Regions from separate parts of the Homo sapiens genome. Here region 2 is linked to region 1. The links come from fine-mapping of genetic effects on gene expression. Tissue or cell type: whole blood. Region 1 holds a variant in brackets; the other region holds the start of a gene. All regions are shown on one strand. Distances are between the middles of the regions.

Region 1 (2,754 bases):
GAATTCTTGAGTAATACAGAGAACTCATAGCTAATTGTAAATTAAGCCAGTGCCTTGTCATTAAATAATTCTCAGAGCCAGCTGGGCACGGTGGCTCAAGCCTGTAATCCCAGCACTTTGGGAGGCCAAGGCAGGTGGATCACCTGAGGTCGGGAGTCTGCGACCAGCCTGACCAACATGCAGAAACCCCATCTCTACTAAAAAATACAAAATTAGCTGGGTGTGGTGGTGCATGCCTGTAATCCCAGCTACTTGGGAGGCTGAGGCAGGAGAGTCACTTGAACTCGAGAGGCGGAGGTTGCGGTGAGTCGAGATCACGCCATTGCACTCCAGCCTGGGCGACAAGAGTGAAACTCTGCCTCAAAAAAAAATAAATAAATAAATAAATTATTGGAGCCAAGTCATAAAAAGGCTTTCAGCTGTTTATGGTGTTGGATGTGGCAAGTTTATTAGGGGTGGTGGCCATGCCGTGTGGGGATGAGGCTTCCCACACCACCGAGGGCTGGGCCTGGCTGGGCTTCTTACTGACCTGGAGAGCTGCCTACCCTCTCTGGGACTCCGTTTCCCTGTTCAACAAGAAGCTAGCAGTTCCCAGAAGGTGGCATGTGGGTGCCATTCCCTATGCTTTGGAAAGGACATGGGTACAAGAGATGGACAGGGCTGGCCTTCCCCACTTAGAGCCGAGTGTAAGGACAGGGTCTCTCGGAGCCTCAGCTTCCTCTTGTAAAATGGGGATAGTAATTCTCCCTCTCTAGGTTGACGTTCATGCTAGAGACAGTGACTGTGTGACTTTCAAGTCTTAAGACAGCTTCCCAATCTTCTGCCAATTTGGTTCTAATGTCAAGAGTTTAGCCACGGCAATTTTCTTTAAATAGATTCCTTTTTAAGACCTAAGCACTGGTGTTGGCCTATCCTTAACAGTAACGTTGGTGAACTCGAAGCTCTGTGTGCTGGTTAAATTTTTCTCTAAAAGGCACTAGAATGAATAAAAATGCTTGTGTCCCCTCCCCAACCAGCTTCATGGTCTACTAGGGGAATTGGTACTCCCCGCACGGAAATGAGGGATCCCAGGGGAGGTGCTTAGGAAATCTGAGCATCGCTGTGTGTGTGCACGCCAGTGTGTGTGTGTCTAAGTGTGAATGTGTGTGCCTGAGGGTGTGTATAAGGGTGAGTGAGTGTATGTGAATGTGTGTGACAGTGTGTGGGTATGTAGGTGATTGTGGGTGTGTATGTGTGTGACTGTGCAAGTGTGTGAATGTGTGTGAATTGAGTGTATTTGTGTGAGTGTGTGTGAATTGAGTGTGTGGTGAGTGCATGAGAGAGTGAGGGTGTG[AGT/A]GTGTGTGTCAGGATAAGTGTGTGAGTGTGAGAGGGTGTGTGAGTGTATGTGAGTGTGAGAGGATAAGTGTGTGAGGGTGTGTATGAGTGTGTGCATGTGTGTGAGTGTGTTAGGGTGAGTGAGTGTATGTGTGAGTGGGACAGTGTGTGAGAGTGTGTGTGAGGGTGTGTATGAGTGTGTGTGCATATGTGTGTAAGTGTGTGTTAGGGTGAGACTGAGTGTGAGTGGGACAGTGTGTGAGAGTGTGTGTGTGTGAGAGGGTGTGTATGTGAGAGAGACTGTGTGTGTGAGTGTGTGTGTGTGAGAGAGAGAGAGAGTATGGCAGTGGAGGGGTGTAGGGGGAGCAGGGCAGGATTTCCACATGTGAGGGACTTAGGGCAGTGATCTGTTTGGAGTTGGGGAACAGGGGCAGGTTCTTGTCCAAATCTGGATTTGCAGAGCAGACACACTGTTTTTTGAAACCATTTGCTTATTCGGGGCAGCGTGGGGATGGCGGATAGAGACGGTGAGGGCCAGCCTCCCAGGCCACCCTTGCCTCTGATCCCTGCTGGGGTGGAGGGATGCCTGGCCTGGCTGGGCCCCCAGATATTGTCCACTCTTGCTCCCAGGCCAGAGACGATGATTCAGGGAACAATGGCGTCATCCTGTTCTCCATCCTCCGAGTAGACTTCATCTCTAAGGACGGGGCCACCATCCCTTTCCAGGGTGTCTTCTCGATCTTCACCTCCTCCGAGGCCGACGTGTTCGCTGGGAGCATTCAGTAACTGCGGGCGGCCCCGGGAGGGAGGTTGCGGGGAGGGGCCCGATAGGAGCTTTCAGGCAGCAAGTCCCCCATCCTGGAGGTTACAAGGGTCCTGAGGATTCAGCTTGGGTTCCAAGACTGACCTGCGCCTCCCGCCTTCCGCAGGCCGGTGACCAGCCTCGACTCCACTCTCCAAGGCACCTACCAAGTGACAGTCCAGGCCAGGGACAGACCTTCCTTGGGTCCTTTCCTGGAAGCCACCACCACCCTGAATGTGAGTGCTGGTCCCACCTCCAGCCCCCAACGCCCTCTGCCAGCCCCCAGGGTCCCTGGTGCCTCATCTCCTGCACACCCCCTTCCCAGCTCTTCACCGTGGACCAGAGTTACCGCTCGCGGCTGCAGTTCTCCACACCGAAGGAGGAGGTGGGCGCCAACAGACAGGCGATTAATGCGTAGGTCTGGGGAGCCCCGGAGGGAGGGGTAGGAAGAACAGGGTGTAGGAGCCTGGTCCCCGACAAAACCTGGATGGGATGTCTCTCAATCCTGTTCCTGACCCACATTTGACCTTGTCCCTGTCTTCAACCCTGTACTTTCACCTGCACGACGTTCTTGCATGTCCCCAGAAGCCCATACCCAGCCAAGGGCAGAGGGAAGCCTTGGAACAAGGCTGCCGTGT
Region 2 (2,500 bases), 22 kb after region 1:
GCTGCCCATTCAGGCCACAGAGACCTGGCCAGCCATTCCTTTCCCTCTAGGATTTCTTTCCAGCATGGAGCTATCCTTACACCCATAAACAGGGCCAGAACTGCCAAGCACCTGCAAATACCTCTTCTGTGCTGACAAGACCAACAAAGGCTTGAGGGACTTCGTCAGGCATCTGAGTGTGTCTGAGAATCTCAGTCTGCTGCCCCTCGTCCCCTTCTCTCGTAGTGCCCTCAGAGCAGCGAAGTCTCCTGCTCGGGGGTGTGGGGGGAGAAGGAATCTAAAGGTGTTAGCCAGACCTGCTTCCAGAAACGGCCCTCAGACCATGCATACATACATACATAGGAGGGCAAGAATGGACGTTCATGGACGTGCAAACGTGGGCCAGTGTGGGTGGGAGTGGGCAGCACGCTAAGAGACAGAGTGTGTGTGTAAGAGGGAGTGTGTGCACAAGGGTGGCAGTCTACTCCAGGGTATCTGGGTACGCAAGGGACCCCATGAGCAGGGGTGAGCAGGCCAGGGCAGGGTGGCCCCGAGTGTGTTGTGATCAGGGAGTATTGTTGAGTTGATGTCCATGCTGTGATCCGCGATGGCTGGTTTGAGTGCGTAGCTGTGCCTGGGTGTGTACGCAAGGCTCCCACCCAGTACCCTGGGTGACAGGTGGCCGTGTGTATGAGTCTAATGGAATGACCAACAGCCATTGTGTGTGTGCGGTAGACCTGTGGCCTCACTCGAGGAAATGAGGCGCCCGTGCGTGAACGCGGTGTTGTGTGATCGCGCCCCGGAGTGTGTGCCACACTGGTTGTGTGACGGCGAGTGTGCTCAGTAGTGCGAGTGGAGCCAGTGGAGCGTTGAGCTCGCTCCGGGGAAGATGAATCAACGCGGGAGGACGCCCTCCCCCCAGTGGCGGGAAGCACCCCCTCCCGCGCGGCCATGCCGAACAAAGCCAGCGGGCGGCGGCAAGGCCGGGCGCGGGGCCGACCCCACAGCCAGGTCAGCCTGGCCCGCCGGGCCCCTCTGATGTTCGGCCCAGGGCTGCGGGACCCGCCCCCGCCCCGCCCCGCCCCGCCCCGCCCCGGCGAGGAGCCTGGAAACAGACACCCACCGCCCCCAGCCGCGCGCACACACCCGGGCTCATGCCGCGCGAGGTGTCCGAGCCCCGCCGCCGGGGGGCTTCGAGGACCCTGGACAGCGGCTCCGGGGCGGCAGCGAGCGGATGAAGGGGCTGCCGCCGCCCGCCCGGAAAGACAGCGGGTGTGGGCGCGGCGCTTACCAGGCAGTGCCGCTGCTCCGGCTCCTGGGCGAGATGCGCTCCGGCTCCCGCCGCCGCCGCCGCCGCCGCCCGAGCGGCCTCGGCTGCCTCCGGCCGGGCTGGCGGGAGGACCCGCAGACTCGGCGCCGCCGTCCCCAGCGCCGGCTCCGCGCTCCCGCCCCGCGCCCCGCCCCGGGCATGCGCAGTAGCCGCCCGGCCGCCTCGGAACCGCGAGGGGGCGGTGACCGCGGGGAAACCGCGGCCGGAGGGAGCGAGGGAGGGGCGCCCCTCGCTGGCCAACCCTAACTGCGGCCGCTGGGCTCCCGGGTTCCGCGCCGTCCTCGAGCGGGTTCCCACTTCACAGACAGGGAGACTGAGGGCCGGAGAGGCTGCCCCTTTGCTGCGAGCTTGCTGAGGGCGGGGCGCGCCGTCTAGCAGATCTTAGACCAGCCCCTCGAAAGCCCTCGCCTGGCTTGACCAAGGAGGGAACTGGGGCTCAGAGGGGGCAGTCGCCGGCCTGAGGACTCGAGGCGCCTGGATGGGGACCCAGGTCGGCGCGATCTCCCGGCTCCGCCAGCGAGGAAATTTCCCGCCTCCGCCCCCCCCACCCCCGGCCGCACTTCCGGCCTCCTCTTCCCCGCCCCCGGCCCTTTGTCTCGCCGCTGCCCACGCTCCAGCGAGTGGCGGGGACGCCGGAGGTAGTGGTGCGGGAGAGATGCCTTCCAGTCCCTGGCTGCGGCCTCCCCGGGGGCCCGCCCGCCCTCCCCCCTCCCCCTGGATACCCTCGAGCAAATCATTTCACCTCTCTGCACTTCAGTTTCTCGATCTGTAAAACGGGACTAACATTATGCACCTCACGGTGGTCTTGGAAGGGCAAAGTAGGTGTTCAGGGGTTTCCAGTGGTATCTGAATCACCAAGGACACAGAGACTCGCTGCCCACCCCCTCCACATTTCCCTGCAGAGAAGGAGTTCCCTTCCCCTTGACTTCCCAGAGGAGAAAAAATAATTCCGTAATTGCTCTAGATGTGACAAAACCCTCTCGCACCGGTACTATGAAGCCACCACCATCTATTAATCAATGGTAACAACCATTGGCAATGATGCTTATGTAGGGCCAGACACGGCGCTAAGATTCTGTTTACAGGTTTTATCTAATTTCAATTTCCAATCGCTTAGGAGCAAGTTAATATTAATGTATTATATCTCCATTTTTCAGATAAGAAAAGAGAAGCAGATAAGTAACTTGTTTG

Evidence for each region. PIP is the estimated chance that this variant, and not a neighbour inherited with it, causes the effect.
Region 2: GPRIN1 starts here. The variant in region 1 is fine-mapped to the expression of GPRIN1 in whole blood (INTERVAL, PIP 0.93).

Annotation. Positions count from the first base shown.
Region 1 is chr5:176,587,087-176,589,840 of GRCh38, forward strand. CDHR2 (cadherin related family member 2) reads left to right here. Exons shown (of 32, transcript NM_017675.6): 22 at 1,945-2,096; 23 at 2,244-2,352; 24 at 2,442-2,530. Among named protein-coding and RNA genes, the nearest start is that of GPRIN1, 22 kb to the right of the region's middle. The variant AGT/A (reference allele first, on the strand shown) is at 1,334.
Region 2 is chr5:176,608,729-176,611,228 of GRCh38, forward strand. It overlaps GPRIN1 (G protein regulated inducer of neurite outgrowth 1), which reads right to left and starts at 1,428. Exons shown (of 2, transcript NM_052899.3): 1 at 1,271-1,428. RefSeq lists silencers at 1,009-1,068, 1,129-1,758.